Regions from separate parts of the Homo sapiens genome. Here regions 1 and 3 are each linked to region 2. The links come from fine-mapping of genetic effects on gene expression. A gene starts in region 2. Each other region holds a variant in brackets. All regions are shown on one strand. Distances are between the middles of the regions. Region 1 overlaps PRR5L (proline rich 5 like). Region 2 holds the start of PRR5L (proline rich 5 like). Region 3 overlaps PRR5L (proline rich 5 like).

What was found. PIP is the estimated chance that this variant, and not a neighbour inherited with it, causes the effect.
Region 1: its variant is fine-mapped to the expression of PRR5L in whole blood (INTERVAL, PIP above 0.99).
Region 3: its variant is fine-mapped to the expression of PRR5L in whole blood (TOPMed, PIP 0.98).

Annotation. Positions count from the first base shown.
Region 1 is chr11:36,405,576-36,410,798 of GRCh38, reverse strand. All of the region lies in intron 3 of PRR5L (proline rich 5 like), which reads right to left. Among named protein-coding and RNA genes, the nearest start is that of TRAF6, 100 kb to the left of the region's middle. The variant G/T (reference allele first, on the strand shown) is at 2,042.
Region 2 is chr11:36,293,893-36,299,115 of GRCh38, reverse strand. It overlaps PRR5L (proline rich 5 like), which reads right to left and starts at 2,828. Exons shown (of 9, transcript NM_001160167.2): 1 at 2,678-2,828.
Region 3 is chr11:36,454,298-36,459,520 of GRCh38, reverse strand. All of the region lies in intron 8 of PRR5L (proline rich 5 like), which reads right to left. Among named protein-coding and RNA genes, the nearest start is that of TRAF6, 53 kb to the left of the region's middle. RefSeq lists an enhancer at 3,746-4,270. The variant C/T (reference allele first, on the strand shown) is at 2,828.

The sequences.
Region 1 (5,223 bases), 110 kb before region 2:
TCTCTTAAGCAGGAACAGATAGAAAGGCCCCCTCCCCTTCTCTGGTCCATTCCATGGGAGCCCATGGGAGGTGGTGTCCTTGACTCAGGACATGGAGTACTCACACCCTTCGGGTGTCGGCATCCTAGTGGGTGGCAGTGGGAATAGTGAGAAACATGGAGGAAACTGACGAAGAGCATTTATTGAGCTCCTAGTTATGTGGCACACTATGCTCGGCAGTCTGCACACAGAATCTCAAATTCTCCAACAGCCTCACAGGTAGGAGTGTATCCTCATTTTGCAGATAAGATCGATGCTCAGAGCTTTGCCAGGGGCCATACATTGGTAGATCCCAACTCAAATGGAGGCCAACCTAATCAGGCAGTGGTACCCCCCATGCCACAGGGGCAGGCAGGCAAAGAAGGGAGGCAAGTGAGTGTGTACTGTAAGGACCAAGAAAGTCCCTCTAAAGCCAGCAGCCAGGCCTCAGCTCCCCTGACAGGCTCCACACCAGACCGTGAGTCCAGTGCCCAGATCTGACCTTTCCAGAGAGGCCGGAAACCTGGAGTTCTAGGTGAGATGTCCAGATTTCTAAACAACTTTTAGGCCAAACCACATGCGCCAACCCCATGGGTTTCCAATCTGCCATTTCTAACAACCCTTCTTAACCTGAAAGCCAAGTCTGTTTCTCAGCCACAGCAGGTACAAGGTAGTAACACATCATCAGGCAGAGTCACCCAGACCAAGAAGAGCCCTCATCTTAATCCCTCCAAAACTAGGCTCCTCAGAAGGGCAATGCCCCCCTTACCTCATGATCTATTCATGAACCTATGTCCAGGTACATCAAGCCCAAATCTGGATAATGCCAGCTCTGTGTGGCTCTTGCAGCCCACTTACTAAGGGTTTAAGCATGTGGGAGGCTTGGGTTCAAATCCCAGCTCAGGCACTTACTGGCTACATGACTCTGGGTGAGTTATTCCACCTCTCTGTATCTGTACTTCCTCCTTGTAAGACAGGGATACAGTATCTATCTCACAGGGTGTGGGGAGTTTTAAAAGAGTTGACACATATGAAGCACTTGGAACCTGGCATATACTAAAAGGCTAAGCAAGTGTCTGCAGTTATCATTACCTCGTGGCATCAGGCCTGGGACTGGTCTATGGCATCAGCCTGTGAGCTGGATCCAGGCTCACCTTCCTCCCGTCCCCTCCCAGCTCTTCCCCCCTACTGTGGGTCCCCCTCTCTTACAGTCAACACTCTGTTAAAGAGATGGAAAAATCGGAGGTGGATTTCCCTTTGGGTTTCAGGCAACCAACTGACTCAGAAGGAAGATATTTCAACTCAGACCTGTCAGAGATCAAACACAATTCTTGGAACCTCCTCTTTCCTTGAAAATCTCTGGGGTTTTCTTCACACCACCTCCCCCCTCCCAACAAGAACAGAAGCAGGGTGGTTGGAGAGAGAAGGAAAATGTGCGTTTCCTGTCTCAGGCCGGCTGCAGATAACTGATCTCTGGTTTCCGGAAACTTCATCTCTGAGCATTTATTTCTGCCGAGAAAAAGTCCTCCCAGGGAGTTTGAGGAGGCAGGAGGGCATGGAGTGAGTGGTGGTGGCAAGAACGTTAGATCCTCAACTGCCCTTTCTGCCTGCTCCCACTTCTGATTTCAACTTGGATATCATTTTCTCCTAGGTCTAATTGTGTGCCCATCCTCCACATGCCCCCAGCACTCCAGATTCCACCATCACCCCTCTAAAAGCGTTGCCTGAGAACTACCTGCCCAGTTCCTCTCTCATTCTGCTGTAAGATCTCCAAGACACAAACCACCTACTCAATGACCACCCCAGTATACAGCCCAGTACTGGGCAGAGCACTCCACATTTATTCAATAAATAAATCAATGAATCAATGGCCCCTGCTTCGACACACACACCCCAACACTCAAAGACTGAAAGCACTTATAAGAACATTGGCAAGCAGGTTCTTCAAAGAACCAGCAAACATCAGTCTTGCTTTTTTCACACTTTTCTAATTCTTCTCGGTTACATAAAATCAGTGGGAGAG[G/T]TGGCAGAAAAGACTGTTTAGGGAGAGTGTGCTCTTGTGTCAGCTTAGCTGCTCTTGTTCTTGGAAGGGCTCATGAAACCCAAACCTCTAACCCAGACTTTTCCTCGCTGCCAAAATGCAGCCACATCAGGGGTGAGGCTGGAGAGGGGTGTTAAAAACCGCACTAACACCCCATTGAGAATTCAAAACAAGAAGACTCCCAGAATCAGCCCGAACTCTGGCAGATGGAAATTTAGGGAAGCCAGAATTGTTGATTGGGATGCCTGGGGATTTAGCTAGAATACGTCTATTCTGAAAGGTCATTTTCTTGCCTTGAGAGATATTACAATGTGCAAGCTGTGCCTAAGGCAGTTTCAATGGGAAATATTCTGATTTATGGTTTTCATATCAATAGACCATGTGCCCTGACTTTTACATGGGACAACATTGGCCGCTATATTGAGGTGAGACGTTTCTGATGGATTTTTTTTTTTTTTGAGACAAATTCTCTCTCTGTCCCCCAGGCTGGAGTGCAGTGTGGCACGATCTTGGCTCACTGCAACCTCTGTCTCCCAGGTTCAAGCGATTCTCCTGCCTCAGCCTCCCAAAAATAGCTGGCTGGGATTACAGGCGCACACCACCACACCTGGCTAATTTTTGTATTTTTAGTAGAGTCAGGGTTTTGCCATGCTGGCCAGGCTGGTCTCAAACTCCTGACCTCAGGTGATCCACCTGCCTTGGCCTCTCAAAGTTCTGGGACTACGGGGTGAGCCACCGCACCTGGCCTGACAGATTTATTCTTAAAGGGTGGAGAAACCTGTCTTTGGATCCAATACTGTGTTTTAGAATTTGACCATCCTCAGTCCCAAGTTCTTCCTCATAATTACTTCAAAGTCTATCTGCTAACATTTAAACTAGAGTCTATTTTCAAAGACATGTCTTAAATGGAAAGGCCACTTATAATAATGACTGCATTACAAGACTCAGTTACATAAAACATCTACCTTCCTAGTCATCCTTTGCATTGGCTACTATTTAAATAAATTTGTATTTCCCAGGTACATACTAACCCTACAGATAGAAAGTGGCCAGGGTGGCTGGGATGAGTGACCCAAAGAATCTGATTTAGGCTTTGACTCCAGACTTGGATACTCCATCAAAAAGTTTATTACCATTTGGGTTCAGTAGAATGGAGAACTGAAAAAGTCATTTCCTCTTGTTCTTTTCTCTGTGGAAAGGAGAAACAGCTGGCTCTCCTTGTAAGAACTTAGCCTCACCCAAACTTCAACTCCAGGCACCACTCTTTGAGGATTCTGTCCCAGACTCTCTAGTTCAAAGTGAGCTCACCTCATCCAAACTGCTGGAGAAGTTTTTTCTGAGACAGGATCTTGCTCTGTTGCCCAGGCTGGAGTGCAGTATGCATCATCACGCCCAGCTTTTCATTTTATTTGTATTTTTTGTAGAAACTGGGGTTTCATTAAAGCTGGTCTCAAACACTTGGACTCAAGCGATCCTCCTGCCTCAGCCTCCCAAAGAGCTGGGATTACAGGTGGGAGCATGACACCTGGCCTGGAGAGGGTTATACACAGCACTATTCATGGGGCAATTCATCACGTTGGCCTGTGTTCTCATGCCTCGTACTCACCCATTATGTATCACTTTACTATTTCTTAACTGTTCACAGTAATAAGAATCATATGGCTAATATTTATTAAACCTTTATTAAATTACCAGACCCTGTGCTAAGGATGCTTTTAGCATTATCTCAATCCTCCCAATGACCATGAGGTTAGTGCTATTATTATCCTCATTTCATAAAAGACAAAACAGACTTAGAAAAATGAAGTCACTTGCCCAAGGTCACACAGCTAGCCCAGTCTTGATCCCTGGTCTCTCTGAATCCAGAAACTGCTCTCTTTGGTTAAAAATTTCCATTAAACTTAGCACAAACCCTCTTGCATATAACAGGACTGTCACAACTGAAAAATGGGCTGAAGAACTGAGGCTTCTCTGTTTGCACATCTCTTTCTGACATCCCTACCATCCTGTGCCCCACCCTCTCCACCAATCCTGCCTCAACCATGTTGAGTTGATAGATCTGTTCTGCAAACAAGTCTTCCAAAAGGAAAATCAAAACCCAAGTGTCTACTTGAATGTAACCAGAGAGCAGCCTATTTCAGTGTTTAAGATGCTGGAATAAAGGCAGCTGTGTTTACCTCCACACAGGCACTTGCTGATGTGGGAGGGCTAGCTTCATTCAACTTGAGACATCCAGGTCACGTCAATGCCTGGGAGATACTTCACATCTTCAGTTATATTCTGTGTCTCTGATGTGAAAGCCTATCTCCATCCTCTGGCCTTCTCTAAAATAGTGTGGCTAGAATGTAAGGTACAGAAACATGGGGAAGGAAAGCTCTGATTTTTTTTTTAAGCTTTGGCTTATTCTGGGCTCAATTTATATCTGGGCACATAGTTTCAAACCTCAACCATATGTATTTCCCACTAGTCTGAAAAATCAGTCAAGACACAGAGGAACATCTAGCAGCCCTAACCCCAACACTGGAAAGGAGGGCTGGGGGAGTGTCATGCTCCTCATGATGAGTGTTAGTCACAGGATGTGATAAGAGATGGGCTCACAGAGACCTCGGGAAAGGAACGATGGCAAAAAAAAAAAGATCAGGAACCATCAACTTAATCCTTCTCCCAACATAAGACCTCTCTTTCTGACACTACAATATAGTGCAAAGAACAAAGGTGTTGCTATGAGTCCCCCCAAAATTTATATGTCAAAGCCTTAACCCCCAATTTGATGGGATTTGGAGATGGGCCTTTGAGAGATACTTGGGTTTAGATGAGGTCATAAGAGTAGGGCCCACATGATTAGTGTCCTTATAAGGGACATCAGAGAGCTCTCTCTCCCCATCAAGTACAAAAGAGGTCATGTGTACACACAGTACACATCTTCCAGTCGGGAAGAGGGCCATCACCAGGAATGTAAATGACCGGCACCTTGATCTTGGACTTCCCAGCCTCCAGGACATTGAGAAATAAATTTTTGTTGTTTAAGTCATCCAGTCTATGGTATTTGTTATGGCAGCCCCGGTAGACTACTACAGGTATCTAAGTCAGAAAGGAGTTCAAATCCTTTTGCCACTGCTCATTGCTGTGTGACTTTTATTTAATTTCTCTAATGCATGATTTTC
Region 2 (5,223 bases):
GAGGAATGGAAATTTACCTTCAGAGAAAAGCTGACAGCACTTGTTGTGGCCTCAACTATCCTCCCAAAATTTATATGATGAAGCCCTAACCCCCAGGACCTTAGAATGTGACTGCATTTAGAAGCAGGACCTTTAAAAATGTGATTAAGTTAAAATGAACCCCTTAGGGTAGGCCTTAATCCTCTCTGACTGCTGTCCTTATAAGAAGAGGACATTTGCACATGCCAAGAGACACCAGGAATGCACACACAGAGGAAAGACCATGTGAGAACTCAGTGAGAAGGTGGCCATCCACAAGCCAAGGACAGAGACCTCAGGAGAAAACAAACCTTCCAACACCTTGATCTTGGACTTTTAACCTCCAGAACTGGGAGAAAATTAAGTTCTGTTGTTTAAGCCCGGGGCCCCCAACTCCCGGGCCATGGACCAGTACTGGTCTGTGGTCTGTTAGGAACCAGGCCACACAGCAGGGACAGAGAGAGCACGAAGCTTCATCCATATTTACAGCTGCTCCCAATCATTCACATTACCACCTGAGCTCCACCTCCTGTCAGATCAGCAGCAGCATTAGATTCTCATAGGAGCACAAACCCTATTGTGAACTGCGCATGTGAGGGGTCTAGTTTGCATGCTCCTTATGAGAATCTAATGCCTGATGATCTGTCACTGGTTCCCATCACCCCCATATGGGACTGTCTAATTGGAGGAAAACAAGTTTAGGGCTCCCACTGATTCTACACTGTGGTGAATTGTGTAATTATTTCATTATATATTACAATGTAATAATAATATAAATAAGGTTCTCAATAAATGTAATGCACTTGAATCATCCTGAAACCATCCCTACCCTGGTCTGTGGAAAAAAGTGTCATCTACAAAACTGGTCTCTGGTACCAAAAAAATTGGGGACTGCTGGTTTAAGCCCCTCAGTCTGTGATATTTTGTCATGGCAGTCCCAGCAAACTAATACGGCACTGCTTAGATGCCAGGGAACTAAGGAAGGAGTCTTATTAGGCAACCAGCTTCAAGGGACCAGCAACTCAGAGATCCCCAAAGATGAGAAATAATGGTGCTCTCTGAAGTATCCACAAGATTGTGCCTAGAGAGAAAGAACTAGGTTTACACACCCACCAGAACCTGCCACTGAAATGCCAGCTTGCCACAGCATTAACCAAGTACGGACTTCCAGCTCCTTTCCTGCCTCTTCTCTTTTCCCCTTCCCCCTGCCAGGAGTCAGAATCATCAGTAAGCCAGAGGAGAGAAGGATGGAAGCTTAACGTGGGAAATGAGAAGCCAACCACAGACCCCCTTTCCAAGCTGCAGGCCCCACTGGAGGAGGGAGAAAAGTCTCCACTGGGAACCAAATTCAAAGATCTGGCTGATTCCCTGGGACTGGACATCCCAATTGCTGAATGAGGCTGTGCTGGAACTAAAAGCGACTTAAGAACTTTTGATTCCTGAAGGGGGCCCATAAGAGTTGTGGACCTACCTTAATTTTCATCCCAGGGCAAGGGAAGAGGGAGGACCTGCTGAAAAAAATTAGGGACAATGATAGGCAAAAATAAAGTTTGCTTCCATAATATACCATGAGTCCTGTGTATTTGACGTATGTTCTCTTACATATGAGGCAACTTAGCCTGGTCTCTGGCCAAAAAAGAGATACCACTCATTGAGCAATTCTTACCCTTTCAAATTCCTTCACTGTCGTCATTGAGCAATTCCATCTTCTTCAAGCAAGACAAAAGCTGATGCCAATAGAAAAATCATTTAAAATAAACAAACGAAAAAATTCCTTAAGCTGTCAACTTGGGTGCAGATGTTCTATGAAGCCAGAAACTGAATGTCACCCTCTATACACCATGACCTAGAGAAGCAGAATAACTCCAGACCAGCAGGGCTGGGCGGGTCTAAGATTCCCATACTACTTAAGAGAAAACTGAATTCAAATCCAGGCTCTGCCATTTAACAACTGTGTGACCCCGGGTGAATGACTTAAATTATCCGTACTTCAATTTCCTCATCCATAAAATAGAGATCATAAAGTATCTATCTGATGAAATAGCTGCAAAACAGTTAGAATGCTGCCTGGCACAGGGCAAAGGACTCACAATACACATAGCTATCATCATATATCATTGCCTCTCAAAGTGAAATATTGTGATGACCTTGGTTTATTAGCAGGATGTTGTAAAAAAAAATGCTTTACAAGGGGCATGATGACGAAAAGCGCAGATTCTAGAACCCGACTCCCTGGGTTTGAAAGAAGCAAGAATCTGAGGCATGTTGTATAAGGGTTTGCTATCATTACTATTCATTCAATGAGAGACATACAGTAATAGGTATACATATGCAATACATAGAGAAAGAGCTTAGTACTAGCAGCTATTATTAAGGCAACAGCCACCTCAGTAAATCTACATGGGCCATGAAGACCCTGGTCACCCAGAGATATCAGAGGCACTGAACAGGGCCAGACAGACAGAGGGTATTTTTCTAACTGGGAGGCTGCTGAACTTGACCTCTGTTGCTTTTCATTATTTATTTAACAGCAGATGGTGGCTTTCAAGAAAATCGGATGTCTTGAAGCCAGAAACCCATCCTCCTTGGGCTGGATACTCAGCCATCCCCTGCAACCCCACCCCCTAGCCCCAAGCTCTCATTGTCTCTCTTGTGTTACCTGGTCTGGTTTCTTCTTCCAGGGCAGGTCCCACCTTGCTGGGGAGAGGTGAATGACCATGGCCTTCCAGCCTCCCGAGAAGGGGATGTTCCAACGGGCGCAGAGATCTCTGGGCCTGGCTTGCCACTCACTGACCTGGGGCCTGAAGACTGACAGAGAAGCAGGCAGAAAATATAAAAAGCTGATACCCCCTGCAGGAAATCATTGTTTAGCCCATTCCAGACTAAAAAAACAAGTGCAACATTGGAGAAAGGAGGGTAAAGTGTCATTCGGGGCCATTGTTACAGCGGCTGCTCTGTGTGGTGGGGAAACAAAGCAGGCCTGTGTATGTGAGGACAATGCTGTTGTGTTACTAGCTGCTTCTGTGTTACTCCTGGGGACAGGAGGATGAGAAACGAGGCCACAGTGTCTTCCCTGGTGGACTTCACTCATCATAGTAGCCAGGCCAATCAGAGCTGGGAGAGGAATTTTGGACATTTAGCCCATGGCATTATGTAATAAGGGTCAGGGGACGTGCCTTCAGGTGTGACCACCTGCCTCTTTGTTAGTCTTCTATACATGAGAGATCACAAATGTCCCTCTCCTTTTCTCTTACTTGCTTTCAGAAACTTACCCCAAGTTAGAGCTGAAAAGAATGAGACATATCATTTCTCTAAACACAAATGTCATCCACTTCAATGCCTAACTTTTGTGATGGGACATCTGGCTGGGACTAAACCTCAGCCATGCAGCACGTTAGCAGCAGTTGGCAAGACTAGATGAATATTATAAAGCTTGCACCCACTGAACCCCCATAATGAACCAGACACTAGGTCATGAGCAACCTTGCAAAATGACCTCATTCGCTCCTGACTTCAAATTCTGACTCTGCAACTATTACCCATGGACTGTGAGCAAGTGTTTTCTCTGGGTGTTAGTTTTCCCATCTGTAAACCGGGATTATGATTGGGTTCCTAGGAGGATTAAATGAATTAATATATGCAAAACTCTTAGAACAGTGGCTGGCCCATAAAAGTGATCAAGAACCACAAATCACAAATTAGATGCCCACATTACACCTGAAACTTGCTTGTACTCATGAGGAGATGGTATGGGGATGGCTGGAAAGCCAGGATCCCAAGTGTCTGTATTTAGCCCTGTTACCTACTATGGCCTAAGTTCACCCTGTTAGGTCCCTGAAGGAATTGGGCACTAATAAATATTCTCAAGTATGAGACAGGTGACAAATGTGTGGAGAGGGCCCACTGTGATGCAACAGTGTGTGGCGGGAACTGTGGGGATTTGAAAGCTCACACCAGTCTTCAGAGGGCAGCCAGGGCTCAGCCTCAGCCAAATACTGCAATGCAGAAAGGTGGAAACAGCATGGTTGGGCCTGCACATTTTTAAAGAAAAGCCAGAAGGCTGGATTTTTTATGTCGAGTTTTCCAATTTTGAAACACTGTGGACCAAACACAACATTGTTAATGCAATGTGAGCCCTAGATCATGCAGTTTGTGATGCCTGATCTGGAAATTTCCAGATTTCCAGCATTTCCAAGCCAGTGCAACCCTGCTGACACTCAGAGCTTTTGTCCCCAACTTGCGCTACGGTCTGAGTGTATGCGTCCCCCACAAATTCATATGCTGAAATCTTCACCCCCAGGTGATGGTATTTGGAGGTGGGACCTATGGGGGGTGATTAGGTCATGAGTGTGGAGCCCTCATGAATGGGATTAGTGCCCTTATAAAGAGGCCCAAGAGAGCTCCCTTGCCCACAGCCACCATTTGAGGACACAGTGAGAAGACACCATCTGTGAACCAGGAAACCGTCCTCATCAAACATAGAATCTGCCAATGCCTTGGTCTTGGACTTCCCAGCCTCCAGAACTATGAGCAACACATTTCTGTTGTTGATAAAGCCACCCAGTTTATGGTATTTTGTTATATTAGCCCATATGGACTAAGACGACTGGTGAGCTGATCAGGCCACGTCAAAGCCACAAAGGGGGCATAAAGTCAAAAAGATTGATCAGCCCTTTCCCCCTGCAACCCACCCTCATCTCTGGACTGAGACAAAGGTGAGGAAAAGGGAAACTAGGGGAATAACAGGAGGGTGGCAAGGGCTCTCCTTAAAGGACTGCAGGACCCTGGGCCTAATCCACCTCCTGCAGGCATTCCTCTGACAAAGAAGGCAGCCAGGACTTAGTAGTGAAACCAAAGGGGAGAATAGGAGTTTATTTAAGCTTCCATAACCTTCATCAGTTACCTCAAATGAACCAAAGTAGCGTAAGTGACAAAATGTGTTTGCTATGCAAATGCACCTTAAAAACAAGACTGCTCACAATGAGATACCACTTCATACCCGCTAAGATTGCTATAATCAAAAAGACAGAACCAGTTACAAAATGTGTTTGATATACCAATGCAACTTCAAAACAAGACGGCTCACAATGAGATACTACTTCATACCCACTAGGATCACTATAATCAAAAAGGCAGAGCCAGATGCAGTGGCTCCCATCTGTAATCCCAGCTACTCAGAAGGCTGAGGCAGGAGGATCGTTTGAG
Region 3 (5,223 bases), 160 kb before region 2:
CGGGTAAGCCCCATTGCCTTTCCAGAAGGAAGGAAACCCTAGGGTGGGTCAGAGAGGCAGGAGAAGAACCAAAAAACTCAGATAACTGAAGCCTCGGGAGTAGAGTCCCAAGAGAGGAAGCAAATCTGACAGCAGCACCCCAGCTCCCAGGGCCTCTGCTCTCCCACCTTCACATGGGCTGCGCTAGGGCAGAAACATGCACAGAGTTTGGAATAGAGTAAGCACCATGACAAGGCTGGGTCCCTTGGTCCCAGAGAAGTCCCCCAACTCATGCTCCTCTTGAGGCAGTGCTGCCTCCTCTGCCACCTAGGCCTGGTATCATGTCACGAGCTGAGCGGCTCTGGACCTGAGAGAGGCAGAGGCGTGGGATGGTCCAGCCACTGCAACCGGTCTGGCCTGGGAGAGAGTAAATTTGAAGGCACGGCCATGGGAGAAACACAGCTTCAAAGGGCTGGGGGATGGGTGGATTCTGTTCTGGGCCTCCTCTTCTTTTCAGCCTCCTTTTCTGCCAGAGCACACCTCTTCCCAGCTTCCCAGTCACATACACCATTTCACCTGTCTCTGCCTTCCACAGTGCCCATATCTCTGACACCCTGAAGACCCAAGAGAAAGGTGTTCCCTCTGCCAGCCAGGCAGGACAATGCTGTGGGGAGAAAGGGAGTGGGGCCCAATGGTATCAGTATTTCCACCACACTTGGACAGGAGGGGGAACACCCCACTTTCCAAGAGGAAAGCAAACCATGCTGTTCACAGACTGGCCCATGGGGACACGTGGCTCATGCTGCTTTAGTTTACTCTCTGCTCTTCCAGTGGATCTGGAGGGCCCTAGACACGTGTGTCAGCCACTTCTAGAGCCAATGCTCCTGGAAGGAGATCACAGCAAGACCTGCCTACATCCATCTGCAAAGCTCACAGCAGCTCCCGTCATCGGACTGTTGTGTGTGTGTATAAATAATGAAGAGAATGAAATTCTAAACCTTTGGACTAAATCTTGAGTCTACTGGCTCAGAAGCCCAAGGGGCCTATTTGGTGGTGACAATAACAATTTTTCAAAATCAAAGGATATTACATAGAATTTAGAGTGTAGAGTGTGTTCCCACCCATGATCTCGCTGTTTAGTCCCAATCTCCCTCCAAAACAGAGTTGTTCTTAGTATGCCCACTGCACAGATGAGGAAGACTGAGGCTCAGCCCCGTTTCTCTTGGGTTCTAGATGGCAGTGCCCAGACTTTCCCCACTACACGCTGCTGTGTCTCAGGTGACTGCTGCTGCCCTCAGAAGACATGTTCCTTGAAGCAGCCCACCCACTGAAGTCAAGTAATAGCAAACACTGCCCCCCAGCAGATGCTACACAAGAAGCTGACACTGGCGCCCCTCTTTGGAGATAAGAGACAAAACGCCAAGGAGCAACCAAGAATACACCAGGCATTGGCAGCGGTTCTTTCTGAAGCATGGATGCTCGTACTCTCCAAGTTACACATTTCTATAATGTTCCCACATTCTTATAATACCTGTATTACTTTTATGATCTCCAAAATCAATAACTATAAAACAGAAGCACCAGAAGAGTTCAGAGCAGCAAGGATCCCATTGAAAAACTGTCCTTAAAAAAAATGCCCTTGAGAACAATTCATTTCTCTCTCACTGCTGATAGAAGTACACACTTCAGATTGCTGTTGGGAAACCCATGTGGGGACCTGAACCCTACAACCAGTCTAGCAGGAGACAGGACGAGACCTGTTTAGGGAGCATTTGCTTCATGCAGATGTCTGGGCCTCTGAGACTGGGTACCTACCTGCCAGGAGGGGTTTGTGCAAAGGGGAGGGTCAAAGAGGTAGACAGTAGTGACATTATTTCTAATGTTGCTAGAGATTTCGATGTTTTGTTTTGTTTTTTGTTTTGTTTTTTTTTTTTTTGAGACGGAGTCTCACTCTGTTGCCCAGGCTGGAGTGCAGTGGCGCGAACTTGGCTCACTACAAGCGCTGCCTACTGGGTTCACGCCATTCTCCTGCCTCAGCCTCCAGAGTAGCTGGGACTACAGGTGCCCACCACCACACCCAGCTAATTTTTTGTATTTTTAGCAGAGACAGGGTTTCACCGTGTTAGCCAGGATGGTCTCGAATTCCTGACCTCATGATCTGCCTGCCTTGGCCTCCCAAAGTGCTGGGATTACAGGCATGAGCCACTGTGCCCGGCCTCGATAATGTTTTATAAGAGTATGGGAGACTCCTCTCTTTGGGGAAGGGGTATCTGGAAAGATACAGTATTAATGTTAGATTTTATAACATGGCTGAAACTTGGAAGAAAGGCTGGGACCAGAGAAGACAGAGGGTAAATCGAGAGAACAGGAAATCAACTTGCTTGGCAGACACATGCAGCATCTTTGTAGGAAATGAGAATTCGTCAGATGATTTCCGCAGGTCCCAGCCCACTGGGATGAGCCAGGGAAAGGTGTCTCCAGTGATCCTTGGAGGGCCCAGGCAGCAAATGGACAAGAGAAGCCACTCTGGCTGCTCACAGGCCAAGAGCTGGAGCCAGAGGGGGGCTGCCCTGGAGGAGGAGACCACAACACCACCTGTCCCCACCTTCAACAAACACTACTACCTGTACATGCAAAATGCTGCACTAGCTGCAGAGAAGAAAAGAAACATAAATCTGATGTGGGGCCCCCAACAGGGGCTTGAGCCCAGCACACTTGTGTACCTCCATGCATGTATGTTCACATGTCAGGGGCACGAGTTCTTAGGAGGAACTATTTACTAAGCATCCATGATATGCTAGGTACTGTACCAAAAAGGAGGTGCTCCACTGATGGCTTCTAACCACTT[C/T]GCAGAAGAACCTGAAGTTGAGATGTGGAATAACAACAGTCATAGTTAGTGATGAAACCAGGACTCAAACCCAGAGCTGACAGCACAGGCCCAGCTTGTGACCCACATACACAAATAACTGTTAGAACAGGTCAGTGTGGCAAATGTCAGGTCAGAGATAGAGACGACAGCACCCTGGAAATTCAGAGGAGAAGGAAGAGAAGTCACAAAGCCTATTTCAGATGGGCTGTGCTTCTCTAGGCTTGACTTACAGACTGAACCACTCACTCACAGGAGAGGTCTGTGCCAGGTCCTGGGATACAAAATCCCTGCTCTCAACGAGCAAGCTCAGTGTAAGGGAGAGGCTGAGAAATAGGACATGGCAATACAGCAAGGCAAGGCCAAGGATGTGGTTTGGGATCCAGGGGAGGGATTGGGGAGGTACACACAACCTCCCCGGGGAGTGATTCCACGGACGCCAGGCCACCTTTAGCTGGGCGTCCATAACATAGCAGGCAGCTCTACCTGGCCCTTACCTGAGACAGGGCAGCTTCTTCCTCCTGCTGATCCTGAATGGAAGGACAGGGCCTCTGTGCTCAGCCCTCTGTGGCTCAGAAGTTGCTCCAGGCCACACAGCTGAGCCCCAGCTCTCGTGGTTTCCAAGGCCCTGCTCTCTCCACAGCTGCCTCAGCCTCTCTCCCCCTGCTGATGACTCACAGGAGAGGCTACAGCTCTTCCTTCTACTTTCTGGGTGGAATGTTTTCATTCCCAAGATTGGGTGTGGGCAGAGCCAGGACCACAGGGACCGCAAGGCTGTGTTGAGTCCCCCGGGCAGACAGCGTTTCCTTGCTAAGTTCCCGCCAGACTCCAGAGCCAAGCCTCAGACAAGTGCGTCAGCTGTGTCCCCACTGGGAGGTCAGGCCTGCTGGGCCCCTTGGGAGGCCTTAAAACTGAACGCCAGGCCCGGGGCTGGCAGACAGCGACCGACACTCTTGCTTCTTGTTCTCCTCCCCAATCTTTTTCTTCTCTGCTCCCGGGAAGGCAGGGCCCTGTCACCCAGGGAAGGGAATCTCCCACTAAGGGACTGATTACCCTGTGGGTACCCCCTGGGGCTCCAAACCAGCCCTTCCCTTGCAGTGGTGCCCTTTTAGCGGGAAGAGGGCCGGGTCCTGCCATTTCAGCTGGCATCTCCAGGCCACCTCTGCCTCCTCCTCTTCCCTTTCACACGGGGTGAGGCCAAGGGGAGGCTTTATTCCCTCCTCACTCACCAGGAGCCCTGCTGAACACTGGCATTCACTGGCATTCATCCCCTGCACCGGAGCCAGCAAGAGCAGCTCCTTTCAAACCCCCAGAGAGATGCAAAGCCTGGATAAGGCCGTCCTCGGGTCCTTTGTTGGGGACTTGGTTCCCAGGCTTTTGATCTCCCAGGCTCCCTGGCCAGGCCCCACCGGAGCGACCGCCATAATAAGGCCATTGTGACCCCAGCACACCAAGCCCGTGGTGGGTGTCCCTCTCCAGGCTGGCACCTGAAAGCCGTGAATGCTGGCTTGTCACGCAGAGAAGCTACAGTATCCTGAAGGAGAAGGGCCCTCCCCCAGGCAGACACAATGGAGGGAGGCCTGTGGGAGGCCAGGGCCTTTGTGTGGGAGAAGTCGAGCGTGCTGCTGAGTGTGTGCTCGGGAGGGCCCTGCAAACATCAGGGAAACAGCCTGGAGACTTCGGGGACTTGAAAGATGGGGCAAAGGCCAGCCTCTGAGGAGTCGGCCTTTTAAAAAAAAGTTTCACTATCCTCTTCCTCCTCCCTCAGCAACTCCCACTGTTGCAGAAAAGTGGCTGCTTTGGAGAGAGCGGCACGTTCTCTCTCACTCTCATCGTGGGCCTCTGACCTATGCGTACCCAGGGGTGAGGCCTGGCTGGCAGGAAGGGACACCTCCGGAGAATCCTCGTGCAGTCAAACACAGGCGCGGGCGCGTGGGTGCAGTGCGGAGCCCCGGGAATAAACCGCTTCTCTGGCTCTGGTCACCTACCCTGCGGGTGACCTGGAGACTGAAAGCACAACAGTACCTTGGAGGATGGAATGAGTTACGCGCCAAAACCCTGGTCAGTAATCCAGCGTGAGTGGTGGCTTCTGAAGGGATGAGTGGCCCCCACACCCTCCGCTGCCTACGACCACGCCTACCTATCCTCCGGCCCAAGTGAGCCACGGCAAAGCCCTCCCATAGGTAAAGGGGTTTATCACCCCCAACCCAACTCCTTAGTTTTTACTTCAGCCAGCGATCTCAATGCTCTCCTCCCACAGGCAAAATAAACCTTTTACTAAGGGGTAGACGGAGGCCCTGAGAGACCTCTCTTTATCTGGAAAGCAGTGTCCTCAGTCAGGATGGGCACTGCTGTGACCATTTTAGCTTCTTAGTATC